7 linked regions of the Homo sapiens genome follow. The protein of the gene in region 3 interacts with the protein of the main gene of each other region in a biochemical or structural test. Each region holds a gene or a part of one and is shown on either strand. Other genes may lie near its edges. The genes, in order: NTRK1, GAB1, PTPRB, NSF, LCK, PXN and PDGFRB.

Region 1 (3,500 bases), on a different chromosome or scaffold from region 3:
GAGAAAGCAGTCAGAGGGAGGAGAGAAAGCAGTCAGAGGGAGGAGGAAAGCAGTGAGTCCCCTGCCTACTCTGGGACTCATTCCTTCATGGGACGAGGGGGGATGGAGGTGGGCTGCTGGGCCTCAAGGAAGAAGATGCATGTGACCCTTTTCCAGCTGGGCCAGGATGCCCTGCTGCATGGCTGTCTCCTCAGCCAGCCGACAAGGACGGAATAGCTCAGGAGTTCAGGAGTCCTGGCTTGGGGAGAGGGTAAGGAGGCCAGAACAGCGGGACACCAGGACTCCAGACTCCTTTCTGTCCCGAACCAGGCACTCCAATTTCTGGGGTCAGGGCTATAGCAGGAAGTTGGCTGTAACCCAGGAGGAGCCCAGGAGTGGGGGCAGGGTTCAGGATGGCCCTCGCACCAGGGATGGGGTCCTCGGGGTTGAACTCGAAAGGGTTGTCCATGAAGGCAGCCATGATGGAGGCGGAGGCCTGGCCGAAGGGGTTGGCAGCCAGCAGCGTGTAGTTGCCGTTGTTGACGTGGGTGGGCTGGTTGAGGCGCAGACACCCGTGCCGCACGGTCTCATTGGCTGCCGGCTCCAGGAACTCAGTGAAGATGAAGCTGGTCTCATTGAGCACGGAGCCATTGAAGAGCCAGCGCAGAGACGGTGCCGGCTGCCCATCCACAGAGAAGGGGATGCACCAGTGGTGCATCTCCACCGCCGTGTGCAGCTGCACACTGGCCGGGACTGTGGGCCAGAAAGAGCAACAGCAGGAGGTCAGGGCGCAGCTGGAGGGAGCCTGGCACACACCCGACAAGTCCACGGGCAAAGCGAGTAGAACCCGAAATCAAAGGGCAGGCCTGGGAGAAACAGGTCAGCAGGCCCTGGGAAATTCACCAAGGAGAGATGTTTTGAAGAAAGTTGACAATACATTTTAAATAAATCAGGCAGCAGGCATATAAAATTTAGAGGCTTAAAGAACATAAGTGGTGGGCCATAAATAAGTCACAGCCCCACAGGAGTGGGGTATCAGCTTATGACAATTAAACATGGAGTCTTTGGGATAAGGAATCTAGAAGAAGTCAGTGTAACCAAGCTGAAGAAGATGGGTCAGGGGCCCTAACAATCAAACCAGCCAAAAATATATACAGTTAAATTTTTGGGGAAAAGCCAGGCACAGTGACTTGCTCCTGTAATCCCAGCTACTCAGGGGGCTGAGGTGGGAGGATCGCTTGAGGCCAGGAGTTCAAGGCTGCAGTGAGTTATGATCCCAAAGCATTCCAGCCTGGGCAACAGGCTGAGACCCCATCTCTTCAAACACACACACACACACACACACACACACACACACACACACACACTCTTTTTGAAAAAAGATATGCGTTTGAAATAGACCCAATCTGGGCCAGGCGCGGTGGCTCACGCCTGTAATTCCAATACTTTGGGAGGCCGAGGCGGGCGGATCACGAGGTCAGGAGATCGAGACCATCCTGGCTAACACGGTGAAACCCCGTCTCCACTAAAAAAATACAAAAAATTAGCTGGGCGTGGTGGAGGGCGCCTGTAGTCCCAGATACTCAGGAGGCTGAAGCAGGAGAATGACGTGAACCTGGGAGGCGGAGCTTGAAGTGAGCCGAGAGCGCGCCACTGCACTCCAGCCTGGGTGACAGAGCGAGACTCCATCTCAAAAAAAAAAAAAAGAAATAGACCCAATCTGGTAAAAGTAAAAGCCCCTCAATGATAGAAAAAAAGTGTATGTATGCATAAATATATGTATATATATATATAATATAGCATTCATACATAGGAATACTATTTAGCAATGAATTGCATGAGCTACATATAGCAACTCCCATTAACATGAATGAATCTTATAAATATAATGTTGAATGAAAGAAACCAGATACAAAATAATACACGCAGTATGATTCCATTTATATAATGTACAAGAACAGGCAAAACTAAATGATACCGATAGGAAAGCATATTTGAGAAAAATTATTTTTAAAAGCAAGGAAATGGTTATCCTGACAAAAGTCAACATGAGATGGGAGAGTGGGATGGGATTGCGAACAGGGAGAGGTGTTGGGTGGTGGGGGATCTTCCGTGATGCTGGTAAGAGTAATTATTGTTTAAAATATATATATTTTTTGCACATTTCTATGTATATTTCACAATAAAAGAAGAAAACTGATGTAAAGTAGAATATTTAAGATAATTTGTTGGCTGATCTAGAGAAATTAGGCAGCGAGCGTAAAGAGGAACTCAGGAGGAGAATTTCCTCTTTTGAAACTAGGATGCGGGGAGAAGGACCCGATGAGGGACGGGCATGAAAAAATACTTCGGAGCAGTGGGAACAGCCGGGCATCTGGCGTTGAGGGCCTCAGGTAGCAAGGCTCGGGCAGGGGGCCAGAAAGAAATCCATCTCCATCCCTCTGGCCTTGACAAGACCCCAGGACTTCCCCCAAAGGATCAGGTTTTCATGGGAATCTGGAAACAGCTGGGAGGGAGCAGCTGTGGAGACACACATCCCACCCTTTCTTCCAGCCCCCCACCCTACATCCTCTTTTGAGGGAAGAAGAGATGAGTAGGGGGTGGGTGCCGGAGCTGCCACTGAGACTCACAGGAGACGTTGACCTGAACAGAGACCTCTGCCCGGCCCACATCGTTCTCTGCCCAGCACGTCACGTTCTTCCTGTTGAGGTCACTGGTGACATTGGCCAGGGTCAGCCCCAGGGATGGCAGACCCCCAGATTTCTAGATCAGGAAAGAGAGGGGGGAATAAGAAGGAGCTTTAGCCAGCTTGGGGCTGGGGCTGAAGTCTTTGGAGAGCCCCTCTGGCTCCAGATGGAAAGGAGAGGAGGGCTGGGAGGGAAGAGAAGGGAGAGAGGGGTGGGAGAGAATGTAGCAGATAATGGCCTTCCTCCTTTAGGTTTGTTCGTTGACTATCTCCTGGATCACATTTTTTTTTTATTTTATGTTTTATTTTTGTAGCGACGGGGTCTTACTGTCCTGCCCAGGCTGGTCTTGAACAGGGCCTCAAGCAATCCTCTCACCTCGGCCTCCCAAAGTATTGGGATTACAGGCGTGAGCCACTGCGCCCAGCCTGGATCACGTATTTAATTATCTGAAAAATCTAAAATCTAACCAGTAGCCTCAAAATAGGCACAAAATATCCCAAACTGAAACTAAAACCAGCCATCTGAGCAGCTAAACAGATGTCACGCATCCCAAGTACCAAATTTGTACACAGCTCGTTGGAGACCCCACTAGGACCTCACTGCCTATTCATTCCTGTTTTACACACAGTTCTAACAAACTGAGTCTCAGCCCAAGGAAGATCAGAAACAAAGAGATGGTGCAAATAGCACAGCAGCAGTTAGAAACAACAGCAGCGGCATCGCCTCCTGCAGCAGATGAGGACCATGGGTGAGGTTAGACAGGCAAAGTGACTTGATTCTGAATCATCGTCAGGATTGAATCAGATCAAGTTTCTCTTCCTAGGAAACCGTGGA
Region 2 (3,500 bases), on a different chromosome or scaffold from region 3:
ATATATATAAATGTGCATGTAACATCAGATGTTATTGACAGTAGTTGTTACCATAGAATGCATGTATCTTTCTCACTGTGTGTATCCACTTAATTTGTTCATATGTCCAATCCCTGTCACGGACCTGATTGCTTACTTGACAGTGGAGGAGAAGACCTACCAGAATGACCCGAAGACAGAAATGGGAAGGATCAGCCCACCTCAGCATTATTAGAGGGCCAAAGGCTCTGTAGTGAAAGTAGTAATACCAACACTTTCAACGGGCCAAAAAAGAGGCACTAGGAGTGTTTGTGAACACCCAAGAATTATGATCAGTATCTACAGCATAGTGTGTAGGCATAAAGTAGTTAATATTTTAACAAAATATAAAAATACTGTTTTCTCTAAAGGGGGAAGCAGACAACTTCCCATAAGTAGAAAAAGAAAAACACTGGTGTTCAATTTCAGGTTTAAATGCATTTATGAAGGAAGACTATAATCCCCATTAATTAAATATAAAAGAGTCCAGCAGAAATTATGACCTTAATGTACAAGTAAAGTAGTATTTCTATATCAAATTAAATTTAGTCTATGATTAAATACAATGCTATATATACACACACATACAGACACACTCATAGTACCTTTATGGAATTCTCTAAAATGCTCACAGTAACTTATATAGTATTGATAATGATAAAGATGTATAAACTGAAGTGTAGATTTAAAAAATCTTTTACATCTTACTAAATGATATCTTCCATGGGTTAAACAGCTTTTTCAAGTTTGAATTTTAATTTTTGAAAGCAGAACTGTGCTTCAGTATTCAAACCTTCATAAAATCTTACAATTTTTCAGAATAAGGAATTAAGGTAAAGAACTCTAATGTGGAAGAAAGATTTCCAATCTCCAAGATCATAACTGTCACATCGTTAACCAGTGGTTTTTAGCCCATTCCTGGCCAAAGTCTAGCTTCTTGGAGGTGAGTTAAAAGGGTTTGATTCAAATTTAGTTTTTATACGTGCATATTTTAAAACCTAATAAAAACGCACATTCTGATGTGTTACATACCCTACTTTACCACACTGGAGACTGCTTATGTATTAACTTCCACTACCAGGATAACTTATTTTTGTATAGACCTTGAATAACTTTAGCTATCTCTAATTAAAGAATTTCCTGAGATGTATGTTTAAAACCTATTATTTTTGCTTACATTTGTGTGAATCAAAATTTTCTTGATAGTATACAAATAAAACAGGGCATAGCTATAAATTGGCTGCTGGTTTCATCAACTATGTATAACTCCACATTTGTGTTATTCAGAAATAACTCAGAATCTTATTATGCTTAGTAATGAGCCAAAATGAATAAGCATAAATGTGAACCCAAAATACATTTATATTGATAAAATTGAGTTTTCAGGCTTTATGTATTGGGGTTATACATAAAATTTCATCTAAAAAGATTCTAGTGCTAAAAATGTTTGGAAAATACTGCTCTGTAAGAAACTTTTAATTTAATTCTCTAATACAATGTTCAATGTGATTTAGTTTTCTAAAGCAAACTGCCTTTCTAATACATCACCATTTTTAAATTATTCAGAATGAAAAATTTTCTGAAAATCAGAGTGCTACAGATCTTCAAATATGGTGACTTGTAAAAAGTTAATGATAAGTTAGACTAAAAACATTCATTAAGTGCTTTAGACCCTTGATAGGCAGCTGTAAAGATTTTTATTTTTGAATTAATCATGTATTTATTATTGTGTTTTAAATCTTAAATATATTCATCCTCCAAGTAACAGAATTTAGCATCTTTACACATTAGCTGTATCGTGTGTTTTGATAGTTTAGGCACATTTCAGGATTTTAGATTTCATTTTGTTGTTTCATTATAAAACAGCTTGCACACCAAACTCAATCAATCTTTTTTATTTAAAAATCCACCTAAAAATTCACTTCTGGGTTTTAGTTTTTGTTTAAAAAGAAGCAAATATTTAAAAGCATCAAATGTTACTAGTCTACAATTCATCTTGTTATGAACATTTTTAGTTTGAGGATTGGGAAAATAAACCTATTACATTGATTAGGCACAGTACTATGGCCAATGGGCCAGAAATCAGGGCACATCTGTGTACTCAGGCAACAGTTAGAGGTCTGAATGGAGGGGGTCATGCCTCAACTGTGGGCACTCCTTTCTCTATGCCCCCTCCAAAAATTGTTATAAGTCTCAAATCAGTACATGAGATTGTATGTAACTTGGTTAAAAAACAACTATACGTGCTTTCTAAATTATGTTGCAAAGCCAAGACAGACGAATATAATTGTAGCCTCACTACAACTTGTGGTCTTAATATCTATGTCACAGGACCATGTTATAGGTGAGACAGAATTATACCATCCCTCTGGTGTTTTCAGAAATCTGGTTGGAAGGAGTCCATGACTATAACATTTCACATTGTAGCAAGGCTCCAATATTTCTTGAATTGGGGCAGTGAATATAAATCACAGTACAAAATCCGTAATTCTTTCAGTGGAAAAGCAACAGGTGCTACATACGAGAATCACTTATATAACATCTATTTTTTTTAAAAAAATGCAGATATAAAATATTAATTGCATAGGGAATTAAATATAAGGCCAAGAAGAATATTAAGTAAAAAAAATCATAGAAAGGGCACTATGGTGTCAAAAGACAGAATTTCATAGAGTAATAAATCTGAATTACTATCTAATTAAAAATCACAGTATGTTGCTGTAACTAACAGTGAATGTCAACTGCTTTATTAATTCCAAACTGAAAACCAATATTAGGACTAACAAGAACACAACCAAAGCTCATTGTCTAAACCTGATCAGTGTATTAGCACATCACTGCCTGGTACGTACCTGATTGGTTACATAATCTACCTTTTGCAAATAACACTTAATACATGTTAACAAGTGTAAGAGCACATCATCACTGCATGCCATCAATGATTTGCAGGCTTACTTGGTAGTGTAATTATTCAGTCTTTCAAAGGTGCAAGATCCCACCCGGCAGAATCTTCACTCAATGAACCAAAAACACTGTAATTAACAAAATATAACAAAGTTCCACCATTAAAAACTAAATGTACATTAACCAGAGAACTAGGTCCTGACACCAGTACATACATTATCCTCAGCATTTTGGAAGGCAACAAATGATGAGTCCAAGTATAAGCTAATGGTTATCACCTGAAGCTTCAGGTAGAAAGCTAACTTGTGAATCTACCTCTCATTTTAATGTTGTTAGACTGTAAACAGCAATTTCCAAATCTAAAAGTAGCTTAGTTGACTTAGTATTGTTATATAAAGTAGTGTGACAAAAAACAAGAACTCCCAAAGGAATTATGGTAAGGTACATTGGGAAAACCCAGAACAATGTTTTAGATGAAAAAGTGCATAAATACAGTAATACTACGAGTGTGTTAACTGTGGAACAAATGTTTCTCTGGGAGCTAAACAATACTATTTTCCCACATTATTTACATGTTA
Region 3 (3,500 bases):
CTAAAATATGAAAAAGGCAAAAGGGCAAACTCATAACTCTGGAAATAGTCATGGCGTCTCTTTACCAAATGCCACACTGTCCGCAAATGTGTGAAGTGTCTCTGAAGGGCTCAGTGGAAATCTAGCCAGGGCAGTACCTCTGAGAGTACACCAACACTGTTGGTAACAGATGACATTTTGGTTATTAATGAAGTAAAGAACTGAAAACAGGAATTTAGTTGGAGACGGTCAGCTGGAGAGTCTATTATTATGTACACAATACTGTAGGTAACCAACTCAGTACTTACAGGACTAAAGGTTAAGACAACTATATTCTTCATGATAATGTCCTGGAAGATTTTTCTCATTTTAAAGCAGTCACTTTTGGCCTTTCTCCTGAACAGACAGATGACAAAAATTGATAAATGAGGAGCAGGTGAATAGAAGACAGAGCACTCTCCTTCAACAAACTGCAGTTTTATTCCTGTACTAGTGAGAATGTATGCAAGATGCTATATAGATTTTTTTTTTACCACAGTTACAAATATAAAAATGTATTAAGCAAATACATAATTTAAATTGAAAGACTAAGGAAGTTCTTTGTTCAAATACAGTTAGTTAGAAATATTGTGGGTAGATGCTATAATATGAAAAAATAGAATCATCTGCCATCTTAACTGGATTTTCAGAGAAATAATAAATGATATTAAAAACATAAAAGTGCTCTATTATAGAACATAAAAAGTTCAGTTGCTGTATTTACTTACATTATTTATGCTTCACACAAATGAAGGAATGGCTAGATTAACCTGCACGGACAACAGTATTATTGGACACTGACTACCTAACATCCAAAATATCAGGCCAGGAGCAATTTCAAGAAGTGTGTGTAGAATGTCTATGAGCTGTGCACTAATTTCCACAAGGTAGGAGTCGAGACGAGATTAAAGACTTGGTCCTTGTTCTTGAGGAATTTATAAGCCCAATAGTCCTGCATAGAAAACCAGAAATACTCTTCCAGTAGAGCACTGGTGCACCCTCTTGTCAGTGTGGCAGACTAGGACATTCCACAAAGGCTGGTACAGGCTTTCCTACTAACCTGCAGATGGAATGCTGTCCAACTCTGCCACAAACTCTTAAAGCCACAATTTCATGTGTTCCTTTCTTGATGGAGGTGCTTATCTACGCACACAGCTATTAGAACATCTCAGCATAACTGAACGTTTGTTCTTGGGGTGAGGATATTATTTATTAAAATAGCTATAACCAATTCTTTTTGTGACTGTTCTAGAAGGGACACATTGCATTTGTCTGACATTATTCACAGTTTTGAATAACTTATTTTGGTGTCTTATATAAGATCATGTGAATTGGCATAGAGGTTATAAAAATAATCTTTGGTAAACCTGTTAATCTCTTATTTCCATTACATAAGCCTCTATTTTCAGAGCATTCACCAACAATTTCTTTATTTAATAAGTGTATCTTATATAGACAATCTTTTAAAAAATAAAATGCCTTATTTGTGTTGCATACATTTATTCCGAGGGAGCCTCCCTACAAGTCAAGAGTATTCTCTTAGCCAGAAATACTTCTATTGCTAGAAACATTTTTAGAACAGAACAGATTTTTCCTGTTATCATGGCTGCATCAAATGTTACCCTGCATTTTAACTAAAATGGCCAAACATTTTCAAAGTCATCATGCACTACAAGAATCTAAGGCAGTGTGTCTAAAATGCCAAACCCAGTACATTTAGTTAAATATCTGGTCAATTCAAAAAGCAAAATAAATTGATTCAATTGTTTAATCAGTTAAACCATCTGGCCAACATAGAGTGAATCCTCAAAAGGGCAACATGTCCTAATAGAAACGTGTGACAGGATTGTCCAAGCACACCCAGGCCACACAGAAGAGATGCCATTTTATCTTCATGATGATGTCTGGTTAGATTCTGTTTTGCAAATATTTTCTCTTTGCATCATTTCACTTGCTTTTTGCAGTCATCGTTTACAGATTTTCCTTTGATAGGGAACATTCTTTGAATACCTGATGTAATTCTAAATTTCAGGTTAAAAATAGCAGGGCAGAAAATTAGCACGGCATTTTCTCCTTCAACTCTTCAGGAATGAGGTAGGCTTGAGGGCTTGCTCACTGCAACTTGGAGGAGGATCAGTTATTCCTTATTGCCACTCTGTCTTGGCTAATCAGTTATATTTTCATTTCCTCAGTGAAATGGAACCCAGAAAGCCCTTGAACTGCTATCATATACAAGCAGTTTATTACCTATTGATTTTCACCAGGTCAGGTTTGGTCTGGCTCATGTTTGTAAACTAAAACTCTAGAGCGTCTCAGAGTTTGGGCTCAGATACTACCACTGCTGTTGTGCAGATCTGGTAGCTTTATGATTTCAGGATTCCAACCTCAAAGAATTCTTAGAAAGCTAAGTGAATGAGAATTTAGTATATGGCCAATAATATTATTGCAAAAGGTAAGGAAAATGTTTAACATAAGAAACTGGATCCTTAAACAGCAAGGCAAGAGAATCAGCATGTGAAGGGTAGCATGTGAGGTCTATTTTTATATTGCTGGACATCTGGTAAATGGTTTAATATTATTTTCACATGTCATTTTGGGCTTTCTTCCGAGAGGTGATTACAAAATTTATCAAAGACCCTCCCAAAGAAAACTGCCCCGAAAATGTCTGTGTGCTGTGTGCCTTTTAGTATTTAAAAGTGAATTGGCCAGGTGCGGTGGCTCACTCTTGTAATCCTAGCACTTTGGGAGGTTGAGGTGGGTGGATCACCTAAGGTCACGAGTTCAAGACCAGCCTGGCCAACATGGTGAAACCCCATCTCTACTAAAAACACAAAAATTAGCCAGACATGGTGGCAGGCACCTGTAATTCCAGCTACTTGGGAGGCTAAGGCAGAATCGCTTGAACCTGGGAGGCGGAGGTTGTAGTGAGCTGAGATTGTGCCACTGCACTCCAGCCTGGGCAACAGAGCAAGACTTCATTTCAAAAAAAAGTGAAATTATGGTCATCTCTTTGATGATGTGGAACCTGAAAGGACTATGAAATTATACTCATGGGTATAAAAGATAATATGAACAGTAGATAAAAATCACATTCAACTGGGAAAACAAACATATTCAAGTAGGAGGAGTGGGGCAAGTAATAAAACAGAGGGACTCAGAGGTTTAAGGGATAGAGAATTACTTAGGACAAATATGTGCAAGCCCAGGTAAGAGAGGTGAGTCTTTGAAAATTCTGATTCAAGAGCTGAACAATTGGCTGCTTTCCAGAGAACAACAGAATGACAATACAAAATTGATTTAATGAGATGAGGTTAAAGGAGTTAATTATAACGAACTTGGAAAAATAATTATTAAGATGCTAGATGGGACTCTCCCAAGATTTGATAGCTCAAAAGCACTTTGAAGTCTTGATGATTAAAGTGTACTGCACAGGTACACAGACAGGATGCCCACCAAGACAGGAAATGGAGTGTTTACCAAGA
Region 4 (3,500 bases), on a different chromosome or scaffold from region 3:
TGTGGTTCTGCTCCTGCTTCTTTCCACTCATTCTCTTACTCTGTGTGCTCAGGTTATATGGTAAACGAGCCTTTCAATTCCTTGAACCTGTAGTTTCTCTTACCACAAGGTCTTTGCGAGTGGTGTTTCCTTTCTTTGTAACGTTCTTCCCCCCAACCATTTACCTCCTACTCAGACATCACTTAGCTACTCAAGGGAGGCCTACTCTGACCCCACATTATAAGTCAGGATCCTTTGTTATATACTCTTGAAGAACTGTATTCCTCTCCTTAGAGATTTATCTTTTTGTTACTTTGAGTGTGTGTTATTATTTGCTTCTACCACTTCACCTCAGTGAAAAGCAGAGAACATACAAGTTATTTAGTCATTATCAACTGCGCTTTGTGTACCTTGTGGGACTTAGGTACTCAATACATTTTTGTTGAAAATGAATCAGTCTCTGAACACTCTGGTGATAGATGGTATATTACCCTAAAGCTTGCCTGTAATGTCATACAGCTATGTTAGGTCTTTGTTATCTGGAGTTCCATGTAACTTTTATACGTAGTTACTATTTCTGCTGTTTCAAGCCATACGGAACTAAACACAATTCTTTTTCCATGTAATAGCTACTCAAGCTACTCATTTACTTGAATACAGGTTACATATCTCCTCAGATTTTCGATTTTGCAAGTTAAACATCCCCCAATTCCTAGCATATTTCATATTCCAAACCCTTCATCATTTAGGCTACCTTCCTCTGGAAGTAACCTAATGTTACTGTTTTGTCAACCTTTCTTCTAAAATGTGCCCAGAGTGGAACACAGTGATCAGAGAAGAATGTACTTAAGCTATTATTGTCTTGAGATGGACACTACCATTATTCATACCAGATAAAATTGTATTAGCGTTTTTTCTATAGTAAATCACATTCTTGGCTCATACTGAGCTTGTAGTCAGTGAAAACTCATGTTCTTTTAAAATCAGCTCCCTAGCTCCATTCTAGGTTTAGAGCAGTTTTATTGAACCTAAATCAAGACCTTATCCTTTTACAATTCATTTTTTTAGGTCAGTGCATGTCTGCTGTTTGTTGAGGTAATCTGGATTCTTAGTTCTTTCATGTTAGGAAACATAATAGCTGTCTCTTCCAGTTTGGTTAGATCTGTAGGTTTAATCATGACTTCTGTTTCTACGTTTGAGTTATTGGTAAAGGATAGAATAAGACAGGGTCAGAAATAACCCTTGGACATGCTGCCAGTGACATGCCTCTAGACTGATACCCATTAATACACTTGGGCACTGTTGCTTAAATACAGATGTGTCTCATTTAATTCCAACAAAACAACCTGCAAAGTAGGTAGTATTATCTTTGTTTTTTTGCAGAGAGAAAGAGAGAGAGATTTAGTAACTTGAGAAGTTCACATAGCCAGCAAGAAGCAGGGTCAAGATTTGAACTCAGATCAGCCTGGTACTGTTACCTAGTTCACCAGCTTAGTTGCAAGAGTGTAGTAAAGACTAGGTTTACCTCACCTAGAACTTTTTGGACATAATAATGTTCAGAAACTATCTTCTACCTTTTGGAAAATCTGAAAAACTTTGGCCCATCTGATTGTCTATCATTTCTTCTGATAGCCTTTATTTTCTAGTAACTACTGAGTGATTTTTAGCAAAAATAGTTCACCTTGTTGCAATACTTTTATTTGTGCATATTTATGGAGTACATGAAAATTTTTTTACATGTGTATAATGTGTAGTGATCAAGTCAGGGTACATGAGTCCAATGTATTAAGTATAGTCATCTACTCAGCTATCAAACATTGAATTTATTCCTCCTATCACTGGATCTTTTTTTTTTTTTTTTGAGACGGAGTCTTGCTCCGTCACCCAGGCTGGAGTGCAGTGGTGTTATCTTGGCCTCACTGCAACCTCTGCCTCCCGGGTTCAAGCGATTCTCCCGCCTCAGCCTCCTGAGTAGCTAGGATTACAGGCATGTGCCACCACGCCCAGCTAATTTTTGTATTTTTAGTAGAGACAGGGTTTTACCACATTGGTCAGGATGGTCTTGGACTCCTGACCTGGTGATCCACCCGCCTTGGCCTCCCAAAGTGCTGAGATTACAAGTATGAGCCACCGCGACTGACCTCATTGGATCTTTTTACCTTTTAACCCACTTCTCTTCAGCCTTTCTCTCCCTTACTCCGCCTTCCCAGTCTCTGTTATCTATTTTTCCACTCCCTGCCTCCTTGTGTTCAAATTTTGTAGCTCCTACATATATGTGAAAGCATGCAATATTTGTCTTTTTGTGCCTGGCTTATTTCACTTAAGAGAATAACCTCCAGTTCCATCCACATTGCTGCAAATGATATGATTTCATTCTTTTTATGGCTGAATAGTATTCCATTGTGTACATGTATGACATCTTCTTTATCCATTCATCTGTAGATGGACACTTAGGTGGTTGATTCCATATTTTTGCTATTGTGATAGTACTGCAATAAACATGCAAGTGCAGCTATCCCTTTGATACATTGATTTCTTTTCCTTTGTGTAGATACCCAGTAGTGGGATTGCTGGATGGAAGGTAATTCTATTTTTAGCTTTGAGAAATCTCCATACAGTGTTCCTTAGTGGTTGTACTAGTTTACATTCCCACCGACAGTGTATGTGAGAGTTCCCTTTTCTCTGCATCCTTACTAACATCTGTTACTTTTTGTCTTTTTAATAATAGCCATTCTGACTGGGGTAAGATGATATCTCATTGTGGTTTTGATGTGCATTTCTCTGATAGTGGTGTGGAACATTTTTCCATGTCTTCTTTTGGCCATTGTATGTCTTCTTTTTTAATGGGATTATTTGTTATTTTCCTTTTGAGTTGTTCGAGTTCCTTGTATGTTCTGGATATCAGTCCTCTGCTTGATGAATACTTTGCAAATATTTTCTCCCATTCAACAGGTTGTCTCTTCATTCTGTTGATTATTCTTTTGCTGTGCAGAAGCTTTTTAGTTTGCTTAAGTCCCATTTGTTTAGTTTTCTTTATGTTACCTGGGCTTTTGATGTCTTAATCATAAATTCTTTGCTTACACCAATGTCCAGGAGTGTTTTCCCTAGACTTTCTTGTAGTATTTTTATAGTTTTGGGTCTTAAAATCTTCAATCCATTTTGAGTTGATTTTTGTATATGGTGAGAGATAGGGGTCTAGTTTCACACTTCTGCATGAAGTTATGCAATTTTCCCAGCATCATTTATTGAAGACAGTGTCCTTTCCTTAGTGTGAGTTCTTGTCAGTGTTGTTGAAGATCATTTGTCTATAATTATGTGGTTTTATTTCTGGATTCTCTATTCTGTTCCATTGGTCTACATGTCTATTTTTATACCAATACCATGCTGTTTTGGTTACTATAGCTTTATAATATATTTTGAAGTCAGATAATGTGATGTCTGCAGCTTTGTTCTTTTTGCCCAGGTTTGGTTTGGTTGTTTGGGCTTTTTTCTTTTTCCTTTTTTGGTCCCATATGAATCAC
Region 5 (3,500 bases), on a different chromosome or scaffold from region 3:
ATATCTATGTCTATGTATTTGCTGTGTGTAGGTGAGGTCTTTGTCTTTGGTAACTAGTTCAGCACTCAAAGTGGGGACACTCAGGTTGCTGTCATCCTTTTACAGGGTTTTAATCTCTTGGGAAGGGCCATTGGTCACTCACTGCATCCTAGCAACTCCCATCCATGTCCAGCTGCCCTCCACTATTAGAGAGGTGGTCCCTCAGACCCCCAGACCCCCTCTTTCTTATTCCATCCAATATATTCAGCACATAGTTATTGTTTCTTACTCTCGGCTGGGCACCAGGAACATGGATGGATGAAACAAGGTTCCTGTTGTCAGGGAAACCTGATTTTAGTTACAGCTACTGGGGAAACCAGAGTTTGTGCCATGGGAAAGTTCCAGCATGCCCATGGGAGTGTAGATGATGATCCAGTTTATTATGCCTGGTAGGATCTAGAGAGGCTTCCTAGTGGGGCAGTCTAGCAGGGCCACGAAAGAAAAGTAGAATTTTTTTTAGCAGGCAGAGATGAAACAAAGAGGCTTTGGGGTGAGAGCCTAGTGGTCTGAGTGCAGGATCTCAAAATTGCTAAACTGTTTGAAGTCAAAGGCAGAGTGGGGGAAAGAGAAGAAGCTACCAGTGTGGACCATGCCAAGCTTAGGATACTAGTTGAGGATTCTAGGTTCTACCTTATTGGTGATGAAAAACCTACAGATCCCTCCCAGCATGCTCTACCCTAGCCCCTCTGCAAAAAAACCTTTACATATCCTGGGCATCCTTACCCTGAACACACACTCCTCCATTCTCACTCTTCAATCTTCCTTTTCACATGTCAGACACACTTCTAGACTCCCAGTTGGAGGAGAAAGGTCTGGGGGCCTCCCCCTGGGGCAACTTGGGCCAGCAACTCTTGCTTCTGCCCACAGGGAGTCTAGTGGATTTTCTCAAGACCCCTTCAGGCATCAAGTTGACCATCAACAAACTCCTGGACATGGCAGCCCAAGTAAGGAGACTGGGGAGGGGGGCTGGGCAAGGGAACAGACCAGTGACGTGAAGACATCTGGCTCAGGACCGCTGATCTGTGTTTGGCCTGCAGATTGCAGAAGGCATGGCATTCATTGAAGAGCGGAATTATATTCATCGTGACCTTCGGGCTGCCAACATTCTGGTGTCTGACACCCTGAGCTGCAAGATTGCAGACTTTGGCCTAGCACGCCTCATTGAGGACAACGAGTACACAGCCAGGGAGGGTACGTGTGAGATTTAAGGGTGGTCTGGGCCCTGCAGGGTCTGGCCAAGCAGACCCAGGTGACCTCACTCTGCCTCCTCCTTAGGGGCCAAGTTTCCCATTAAGTGGACAGCGCCAGAAGCCATTAACTACGGGACATTCACCATCAAGTCAGATGTGTGGTCTTTTGGGATCCTGCTGACGGAAATTGTCACCCACGGCCGCATCCCTTACCCAGGTTAGAGCCAAGGGCAGGAACTGAAAGGGTGATGGGAAGGGCAAGTCCATGTCTTCCCATTCAATTCTTTCCAGTCTCAGAATCTGAAACTTTGTAGCTGCATCTCCTCTATCTTCTCAGGGGTATGAGTCCAACGTCCCCAGGCAGATGCCACATCTCCCAGGGCTGGCTTCCATCTCCGTATCTCTCTTTAATAACCCCAGCTCTTTTCTTTTTCTCTTTTTTTCTTTTTCTTTTTTTTTTTTTTTTTTTTTTTTTTTTTTGAGACGGAGTCTTGCTCTGTCTCCCAGGCTGGGGTGCAGTGGCGCCATCTTGGATCACTGCAACCTCTGCCTCCTGGGTTCAAGTGATTCTCCTGCCTCAGCCTCCCAAATAGCTAGGATTACAGGTACGTGCCACCATGCGCAGCTAATTTTTTGTATTTTTAGTAGAGACAGGGTTTCACCATGTTAGCCAGGATGGCCTCAATCTCCTGACCTCGTGATTGGCCTGCCTCGGCCTCCCAGTGTTGGGATTACAGGCGTGAGCCACCACACCCGGCCCCAGCTCTTTTCTTTAGTTCTGGCCCAGGCAGCCTGGTATGGTAGAAGAAGATCTAGCTCAGGAACAAGAGGCCTACCTTTTATCAGCAGATCTGCCACTGTTGCTAACTTTCTGTTTGGCTTTGTTCAGATCATTACTGTAACTAGTGAAGCTAGTCACTTCACTTCTCTAAGCCTCAGTTTCCTGATACTAAAAATAAGAGACTAGGCCAGGTACAGTGGCTTATGCCTATAATCTCAGAACTTTGGGAGACCAAGGTGGGAGGACTGCTTGAGCCCAGGAGTTCGAGACCAGCCTGGGAAACTGGTCGAAACCCCATCTCTACAAAAACAAAAGTTAGCCAGGTTTGGTGGCATGTGCCTCTAGTCCCAGCTACTCAGAAGGCTGAGGTGGGAGGATCACCTGAGCCAGGGAGGCAGAGGTTGCAGTGAGCCAAGACCATGCCATAACACTCCAGCCTAGGGCAATAGACCAAGACCCTGTCTCAAAACAAGAAAAAGAGAGACTCCATCTCTACAAAAAAAAAAAAACAAACAAACAAAAAAAACATTTAAAAATTAGCTGGGCATGGTGGCACACACCCGTAGTTTCAGCTATTTGGGAGGCTGAGGTGGGAGGATCATTTGAGCCCAGGAGGTTGAGGGTGCAGTGAGCCATGATTGTTCTATTGCACTCCAGCCTGAGCAACAGAGAGAGAATTTGTCTCAAAAAAAAAAAAAAAGAAAAAGAAAAAGAAAAAAGAAAAAATGAGAGACCATTTGTGAAAGAGCCTGACTCATAGTAGGTTGTCAGTATACACTGACTCCTCCCACCATCTCCTGGACAAAGCCCTTTACCCCTGAATTCAGCCAAGACAGGGATGGAATTTTTGAAAGGAACTTGCTAAGAAACTCTGGGGAAAGGAAATGGAGCATAAAGACAGGAGTAGGGGGGTCATGCGGCACAGTGGCTAGATTTGTAGAAGCTTCCCATATCCCCAGAGCAAGGTGAACAGACCTTTGCTCCAAGGAAGGTAAAGACACCTTGGAAGGCCGGATGCAGTGGCTCACACCTGTAATACCAGCACTTTGGGAGGCCGAGGCGGGTGGATCACAAGGTCAGGTGTTCGAGACCAGCCTGACCAACATGGTGAAACCCCGTCTCTACTAAAAAAAATATATATAAAAATTATCTGGGCATGGTGGCACGCGCCTGTAACCCTAGATACTCAGGAGGCTGAGGCAGGAGAATTGCTTGAACCCAGGAGGCAGAGGTTGCAGTGAGCTGAGATCATGCCACCGCACTCCAGCCTGGGTGACAAAGTGAGACTCTGTTTCAAAACAAAAACAAAAACAACCACCTTGGAAACAGGTGAAAAGCTGAGGGGCTTCCCTGCCCTGGGCTTGCCCCAAACCAGCGTCCAGGGGTAGTGCTGGAGCTGGAAATACAGAAATATTCTCCAGTTATCCTGCCAGGGGTCCTCACTGCTCCTTCCCGGTTCCCACAGAGGCAAACCCATAGGGAATGTATCT
Region 6 (3,500 bases), about 50 Mb from region 3:
GTCACAGGGCCAGGCTCAACCCTCCACCCCAGCCACACTCCTGTCTCCCACCATGAAACCTCAGCTGAAGGGAGGCTAGGAGACACCATCAGGGCCAAGGGTGCAGGGACCGTTCACTCCCCTCTCATATTCCCTAGGTCATGCCCCAAAGGTCTCCAGCTGACCCACGTGGAAGTATGAAGTCAGCAGCTGCTGGTGAGTTCTGTCAATATCAATCCCCAAGGAAACACTGAATCCTCTAAATTAAACATCTCAGGCCTGGCAGGACTGGGGAGGCCCAGCAGGGGAGGGGAAGGGCAGGTACCTCGTGCAAGCCTGGCCCCATGGTTTCCCACAGACACGCTCGTGGGAACTCAGAGGCCCTGGAGGGCGAGAGGGAAGGATGGGAGAAGAGTAGCAAGGGAGGCTTGTGGATTCAGGATCAGAGGCAGAAAGAAAGAGGATGTGTTGAGGACAGCTAGCGTGGGAGATGGGGCTCCAGGGCAAATGACCTCCCAGGCACAGGCTCCCAAGTCCCACATGGCCCAGCAGAGAATGCCCTCCCCCACCCAGAGCAGCCATCAACACAAGGTTCTTTGTCCCAGCGTCCCAGCCTCCTGATCCCCTCGACCTGAGAGGCTGGGAGCACCCAGGGAGGAAGGAATGTCCCAGCTGAGCACTTCTCCAGCTTGTCTGCCTTCACTGGCTACTGCAATCCTCAGGCAGGCTGACCCGGCCCTCCCTCCCCATCTCCTGGCATCACAGCAAGGCCAGGGCATGACAGTGTCCCTGGCTCAGGGGCAAGGCACCCAAACACTGAGATGCCAAGATCCAGCTACCCACACTGAGGTAAGGGAGGAGAAGGATGAGGGAGGGGCGGCAGGGCAGGGAAGATGGAGGGTTCACAGGGCACCTTGAAATCCGACAGCGAAGCCATCAGCTCGTCCAGCTCCCTGGTGGCAGAGGAGGCCGAGATGCGTGTCTGCTGTTGGGTGGAGGTGACGCGCTGCGGGCTGCTCATCTCGCCCTGGTTCACAGTGATGGCAGGGCTGCAGGGTGGGCACAGCATCAGTGGGGAGCCCACAGTCAGCCCCACACTTCCCGGGGATCAGATCGACCTCTCACCTCGGACACTGGGGTCTCACCATCCCCAACCCCAGGGAGGTCCACCAGCTCCCTGTCTCTCCTGGGGACCCATCACTGGGTCAGAAGAAAGGGCAGTTCAATGGCACCAGGAAGTGCCAGGAAGACTCCTCTAGCCCCCAGCCCAAGTGAAAGCTGGCCTGCGAAACAAGCCCAAGCGCCCTGTGTTTCCTCCACAACACTGGACATGGAGGTGAGGCTACTGCAGTAACACGACGGCACTGGTAAGAGCTCGCGTGTTGGGCACTCACCATGTGTGCCACGCACTACACACCAGAAACCATTCCAAGCGCTTTACATGGATTACTGGTTCTCACCCTTACTGAGGTAGGTGGTCTTATCCCAGTGATCCCATAAGTTCTTGTCCCATTTTACAGATGGGAAAACTAAGGCTTGAGAGCTGACAGTAACTGTCAGAGCCAAGATGTGAACCCCACTGTGTGGCCCCAAAGCCTGTGCTAAGAGCTGCTAAGCTCCAGGCGCCCTCAGCCTGCACAACGTCTGTCCTTTCTGACTGGCAGTGACTGGCTGAAGGCAGGGATGGTGTCCATGTGACTCACCACTATCCCCCCAGTGCCTGGCAAATGGCAGACACGGGAGGGAGTGGGTGATACCAGGGCTAAGGGGACAGACACTGGACCCGGGGCAGGCTGGGCCAGCCCTTCCCCACCTGGGGAGGGCCCAGTGGGTACTCACACGGGGCTGGGCACGGAGCTCTCCAGTTCATCCAAGAGACTCTCCACACTGGGCCGCACGTCCTCCAGGCCCCGGCCCCCATTCCGCTTAGGCTTCTCTTTCGTCAGGGGCCCAGCTTTGCCTCCCAAGGGGCTGTTAGTCTCTGGGACACCATAGAGGGGGCTCAGGGCCCCAGGAAGCGGGGGGCTTGAGTTGGCCTCATCTTGCAGAGAGGAGAGAAAAAGGCTGCTCAGCCCTTGAGCCCTCCTGGGATCTAGAGGTCAGCAGATGGGCCCTGGGCCCTGGTAGACCCTGCCCCAGGGACCCGGTCCTACCTGCAGGGAAGCCTGGCGGGTTATGCTGTACAGCGTTCAGTTCCAGCAGCAGGCGGTCGAGTTCAGAAAGGTTGCTGCCCAGGGACGTGCTCATTACGGTGGGTGAAGGCTCAGCTGATTTCTGCTTGTTGGGGAAGCTTTGAGAGGCAAAGGAAAGAAGATAGTGAGAGATGCTTTCTGGCCTTGTACTGGCTTGGCAGTTCCCAGATTCCCAAGGAGAACAAGGCAGAGGAGATGCGAAGTCTTCCCCCGCAAGAGGACAGAGGGTAGGGAAGGGATGTGGTAAGAAGAGGGGAGGAGGCCGGGCACAGTGGCTCACGCCTGTAATCCCAGCACTTTGGGAGGCTGAGGCGGGCAGATCATGAGGTCAGGAGATTGAGACCATCCTGGCTAACACGGTGAAACCCCGTCTCTACTAAAAATTAGCCAGGCGTGGTGGTGGGTGCCTGTAGTCCCAGCTACTTGGGAGGCTGAGGCAGGAGAATGGCGTGAACCCAGGAGGCGGAGCTTGCAGTGAGCCGAGATCGCGCGACTGCACTCCAGCCTGGGCGACAGAGTGACAGAGCGAGACCCCGTCTCAAAAAAAAAGAAAAAAAGAAGAGGGGAGGAATGAAGTCTTGCTTCAGTTCCTCAGCTACACGGAGATGCTGTGATAGCCCAGAATGTCCACTGCATGGAGATGGCACTGATGAGGTAGACGGGCCCACCGACAGGCCTTCTGCAGCTTAAACCAGAATAACCCCACAAGGCCCAGTTGCTATGCCTGCTCCCGGGCCTCCGCTGCCTCCCACCCTGGCCAGGTCCCTGAGATTTCTAAGCAGGAGGGAAGGTGCCCTGGGCAGACTGGGGCAGTACCTGTAGACGTGCTCCTCCTCACCCACTCGGGAGCACGGAGAGCCAACACTGTCCTGAGGGTTGGAGACACTGGAAGTTTTGGCACTGGAGCCGTACACAGGTGATGAGGACTGAGGCTGCGAGAAGGAGAATGCTCAGAGGCTACCCCGAGGGGAGAAAAAGGAACAGGGGCCAGGAGCAGCTCCAGTCACCCCCAGGAGGCTCCTGCCCACAGCCAGTCTCACCAGGGAATTTCCACAGTTGGGCCAGGAAACCTGTGATTAACCACTTGGTCACTGTTCCACTCACGTGGTGAGTGGGAAGAGCAGTGTCTGGTTGGGAAGGGTCGACTGCCCCAATTCCATTCCATCCCCTGGCTCCCTAAGCCCCTGCCAGCTAAGTTCCCTCTGTCCCCCAGCCTCCTTGGCCTTCCCAGCCACTGTCCCCGCCTCACCTGCTGGTGGATGAATCGGGAGCTGCTGGGCTGCCACTGGTCTAAGGGGTCAAGGATTGTGCCATTGAGGGCCTCGCTGG
Region 7 (3,500 bases), on a different chromosome or scaffold from region 3:
CTAGAATCCATCTCCTGAGTTCCAGGCTCCCTCTCCCACTCCTCCCATGGGTGGGTGGACAGTGCAGGAAGGGAGAGGGAACGGGGGCAGGGAGGGGAAGGAGCAGGGACATGGCGAGGGGCGTGCTCATCACCATTGATCTGTAGCTGGAAGGAGAGCTGGACCTCAGCATCCTCATGGAAGGCCCGCATGGTGTAGTGGCCAGCCTCTGCCACCTTCACGCGAACCAGTGTCAGCTCTGACACATACCTGGGGAGCAGGAAAGGCAGCTGTCAGAGTCGGAAGGACTCTTACAGTTCTCCCCACCCTCCTGGTATAAAGAGGAACAAGGCCCAGGGAGGGGAAGGGCTTGCCAAGGTCATCTCGGCATTGGTAGCAGAGCCGGGACTCAAACCAGGTCTCGTAAATCCTCACCCACAGGCAGTTCCCCTAGGCCAAGAGGGAGGGTTGAGATGAACTGTGGGTGGGGGTGGGGAGCATTGAAGGAAAGTCCTATTTCTCTCCCCTTCAGAAAGGTGGACACTGCTCCATCCTAACCTACCACAGTCTCTGTCAGCCAGCAAATCTCCAGCCTCAGGGATACCACAGGCCATGAGTGGCCTGCCTGGCACCCTCTTCCCCAGTCATCTGCCCGTTTACTTCTTGGCTGCTACTGCTGGCCCCACCCATCACAAGGACAACTAAACATCTGGGTGATCATCTGACCGGCGACTGTTTCCTCCACTAGACTAGAAACTCTAGGAGGGATGAACTGTCAGCTCTGGTCGCTGCAGCATCCCCAGCACCTGGCACCTAATATGCTCTCAGAAAGCTGGGCCTAGGTTTGTGGCTGAAAGCCGAGGGCTGCCTGGCGGCTGCAAAGAAAAATAACTTCAAGAATGGGATGGGAGAGCGAGCTGCTCACCGGGTCTCCGACACGTTGCGCGTGGACAGGGCGATTTCGCCAGCGCTGGAGTCGCCCAGGGTGCGGTTGTCTTTGAACCACAGGACAGTGGGCGGTGGGTAGGCCTCGAACACTACCTGCAGTGTCCGGCTCCGATGCAGCTCAGCAAATTGTAGTGTGCCCACCTCTCCCAGGAGCCGCACGTAGCCGCTCTCTGCAAGGGGTGACCGTCAGGGGCGGGGCCCTGGGGGCAGGGCACCAACTGAATCCCAAAGGAGGCCAGCCTGTGGGGTGGGGCTTCAGGCCTGGGGACCGTGCCAGCCATGGAGTTTCCGGAGCTGAGGTTGAAATTGGGCTGGGGACAGGGCCTGGAGAAGGGGCCGAATTTGGGGCTAATATGGATGCTGGGGCCAGCTCCCAGGTTGGGAACAGAGTTGTACTAACAGTTCTCTGTTCTGGGTCAGTACTGTGGCTGATGCTGGGACTAGTGATAAGGTTGAATTTGGGGATGGGGCTTCCCGGACCTGGGATGGCAGTTGGGCTTGGAAGTCAGGTTGGGGCTGGGGCTCTGGCTAGTCAGAAAGTCTAGGTTGAGATAGGGTTGGATTTGGGGCTGACACTACATTTTGGTTTGGGGTTTATCCTGGAATTGGGGTTTTGGTTGGCACAGAGGCTAGCTAGGGCTGCACTGGAGTGTGGCTGACTATACCCCGGGGCTGTGACAGGCACTGGGTCCAGCTCAGCCCTGATCACTGTATCAAAAATGCAACTCTCACCATCACTCTGCACCCAGCAAAGTGGGTGAGGGTGGGGAGCGTTGAAGGAATTGGGGATTGGGCTGAGCCCAAGGCACACACCAACCACGGTGATGTTGATGGCCTTTTCATCCTGATGGTCATTCACACTCTCCGTCACATTGCAGGTGTAGGTCCCCGAGTCTTCTAACTCGGCACTGGGGATGTGCAGGATGGAGCGGATGTGGTAAGGCATATCCAAGAGGAAGTCAGTCACCGGCTCCACCAGCCGCCCACTCTGCAGCAACAGGTTGGGCAGGCCCCCCAAATCAGGAGGGGCCGGGGAGAAATCAGCCTGCAAGCCAGATATCCACCCGTTCCTGGCCCCTCCTCCGACCCCTGCCTGGCCCCACATTACTTCTTTGCGGGGGTATGTCCACTCGAAGTTGACCACCTCATTCCCGATCACAATGCACATGAGGGTGATGTTCTCACCCTGGCGGACCACAGTCTGCACTGCGTTCACAGAGACGTTGATGGATGACACTGGTAGAGAGAGATTGGCTTAGGTCTGGGGAAGTCACCACCAGCCACTAGCACTTCAGCTTGGGGATAGGGTAGGGGGCTAGAGAGGGAAAGGATGACTGATGTAGAAGATTCATTCATTCAACAAATATTTACTGAATACCTACTACATGCCAAGTACTATTCTGGACACTGGAGCAACAGTAGTGAACAAAGTGGACAAAATCTCTGTTCTTATGGAGCTGACGTTCTAGAAGGGATAACAGTCTGGAAATCAAAGTACCCTCTGGAGATCTATGTACAGGAGAAATGTATTGAGCACATAACATGTGCCAGGTACTCTCCATCTTTTATTTAATCTTCACAATTGATCCTATGAGGTAGGCAGCCATTGTTATCCCCACGTTACAAGAGGGGAAGCAGGCTCAGAGAGATTATGTGCTTTGTGTAAAGTCACTCAGACAGGAAATAGCAAAGCTGGGATTTCGACCCAGCTGGCTCTGAAGCTTGTGCCCTCACCGACCATGTTGCACAGGCCAGCTCTGCCACTATCGAATTCTGCGACAGGGGACAAGCTCCATCCTCTCTCTGCGCCTGAGTTTCCCTCTTCTGTAACATGGGGAAAACACTATCTTCCTTCGAAGGCTGTGGTGAGAATCCACTGGGAAGTGGAGTCCCACACTTTGTAAACTGTAAAGGGCTATTCCTCTGTGGAGGGTTATACTTGCCTCTGCTGAGCATCAGGCCAGAAAGGGGGCTCACCCTGGAGTCTGTAGACATAGTAGGCATCAGAATCCACCTCCCTGTCCCCAATGGTGGTTTTGCAGATGTAGCTTCTGTCCTCAAAGATACCAGAAAAGCCACGTTGGTGATCATAGGGGACAGGCAGTGCAACGTCCCCTTTCTTCTCGTGCAGTGTCACCACCAGCTGTGGGTCTGTTACTCGGCATGGAATGGTGATCTCAGTTATTTCCGTGAGAAAGATGAATAGTTCCTCGGCATCATTAGGGAGGAAGCCCACGGTGGGATCTGCCAGGAGTGGAGCCGTGAATAAATCAGGGGAACTGGGTTTCTGGCCATCCCCTGAATTGCTGTGTGGCAAGTCATTTGCCATCTCTGGCCCTCTGTCTCCCCGTTACAGAATAGGGATGCTCCCAGAAGAGCATAAATCAAATGTTAGAGCTGGTCCCTTCCAGCTCTAATGTTTGATATTGACAGTGCCAGGGTAAGAAAGAAGGCAAGTCACAAGTTGAAATGCAGCTGATATCTGGAGCTTGGAGAATGGGGAAGAAGGGATGTGGGGTCAAGAGGGAGCAGATTGGAAGCAGCTGAGAATATAGAGTTCTTGGGAGGCAGGA

What was found.
Region 1: of the proteins of PTPRB (region 3) and NTRK1, one has a biochemical effect on the other in vitro, tested with the Homo sapiens proteins (one large-scale study listed by IntAct).
Region 2: of the proteins of PTPRB (region 3) and GAB1, one has a biochemical effect on the other in vitro, tested with the Homo sapiens proteins (one large-scale study listed by IntAct).
Region 4: of the proteins of PTPRB (region 3) and NSF, one has a biochemical effect on the other in vitro, tested with the Homo sapiens proteins (one large-scale study listed by IntAct).
Region 5: of the proteins of PTPRB (region 3) and LCK, one has a biochemical effect on the other in vitro, tested with the Homo sapiens proteins (one large-scale study listed by IntAct).
Region 6: of the proteins of PTPRB (region 3) and PXN, one has a biochemical effect on the other in vitro, tested with the Homo sapiens proteins (one large-scale study listed by IntAct).
Region 7: of the proteins of PTPRB (region 3) and PDGFRB, one has a biochemical effect on the other in vitro, tested with the Homo sapiens proteins (one large-scale study listed by IntAct).

What each region holds. Positions count from the first base shown.
Region 1 is NC_000001.11:156,870,865-156,874,364, reverse strand, and holds part of NTRK1 (high affinity nerve growth factor receptor isoform 2 precursor), read right to left. Parts: intron 2,743-3,500; coding exon 2,610-2,742; intron 733-2,609; coding exon 406-732; intron 1-405. UniProt on the Homo sapiens protein: Receptor tyrosine kinase involved in the development and the maturation of the central and peripheral nervous systems through regulation of proliferation, differentiation and survival of sympathetic and nervous neurons.
Region 2 is NC_000004.12:143,469,376-143,472,875, reverse strand, and holds part of GAB1 (GRB2-associated-binding protein 1), read right to left. Parts: 3' UTR 1-3,500. UniProt on the Homo sapiens protein: Adapter protein that plays a role in intracellular signaling cascades triggered by activated receptor-type kinases. Plays a role in FGFR1 signaling. Probably involved in signaling by the epidermal growth factor receptor (EGFR) and the insulin receptor (INSR).
Region 3 is NC_000012.12:70,515,430-70,518,929, forward strand, and holds the end of PTPRB (receptor-type tyrosine-protein phosphatase beta), read right to left. Parts: 3' UTR 441-3,500; downstream 1-440. UniProt on the Homo sapiens protein: Plays an important role in blood vessel remodeling and angiogenesis. Not necessary for the initial formation of blood vessels, but is essential for their maintenance and remodeling. Can induce dephosphorylation of TEK/TIE2, CDH5/VE-cadherin and KDR/VEGFR-2.
Region 4 is NC_000017.11:46,593,669-46,597,168, forward strand, and holds part of NSF (vesicle-fusing ATPase), read left to right. Parts: intron 1-3,500.
Region 5 is NC_000001.11:32,278,765-32,282,264, forward strand, and holds part of LCK (tyrosine-protein kinase Lck), read left to right. Parts: intron 1-906; coding exon 907-983; intron 984-1,076; coding exon 1,077-1,230; intron 1,231-1,314; coding exon 1,315-1,446; intron 1,447-3,500. UniProt on the Homo sapiens protein: Non-receptor tyrosine-protein kinase that plays an essential role in the selection and maturation of developing T-cells in the thymus and in the function of mature T-cells. Plays a key role in T-cell antigen receptor (TCR)-linked signal transduction pathways.
Region 6 is NC_000012.12:120,220,731-120,224,230, forward strand, and holds part of PXN (paxillin), read right to left. Parts: coding exon 3,421-3,500; exon of another isoform or gene 3,104-3,420; coding exon 2,988-3,103; exon of another isoform or gene 2,270-2,987; coding exon 2,133-2,269; exon of another isoform or gene 2,021-2,132; coding exon 1,819-2,020; exon of another isoform or gene 1,029-1,818; coding exon 893-1,028; exon of another isoform or gene 585-892; intron 196-584; exon of another isoform or gene 1-195. UniProt on the Homo sapiens protein: Cytoskeletal protein involved in actin-membrane attachment at sites of cell adhesion to the extracellular matrix (focal adhesion). Recruits other proteins such as TRIM15 to focal adhesion.
Region 7 is NC_000005.10:150,131,846-150,135,345, forward strand, and holds part of PDGFRB (platelet-derived growth factor receptor beta isoform 1 precursor), read right to left. Parts: intron 3,172-3,500; coding exon 2,905-3,171; coding exon of another isoform or gene 2,871-2,904; intron 2,164-2,870; coding exon 2,036-2,163; intron 1,916-2,035; coding exon 1,741-1,915; intron 1,098-1,740; coding exon 905-1,097; intron 250-904; coding exon 134-249; intron 1-133. UniProt on the Homo sapiens protein: Tyrosine-protein kinase that acts as a cell-surface receptor for homodimeric PDGFB and PDGFD and for heterodimers formed by PDGFA and PDGFB, and plays an essential role in the regulation of embryonic development, cell proliferation, survival, differentiation, chemotaxis and migration.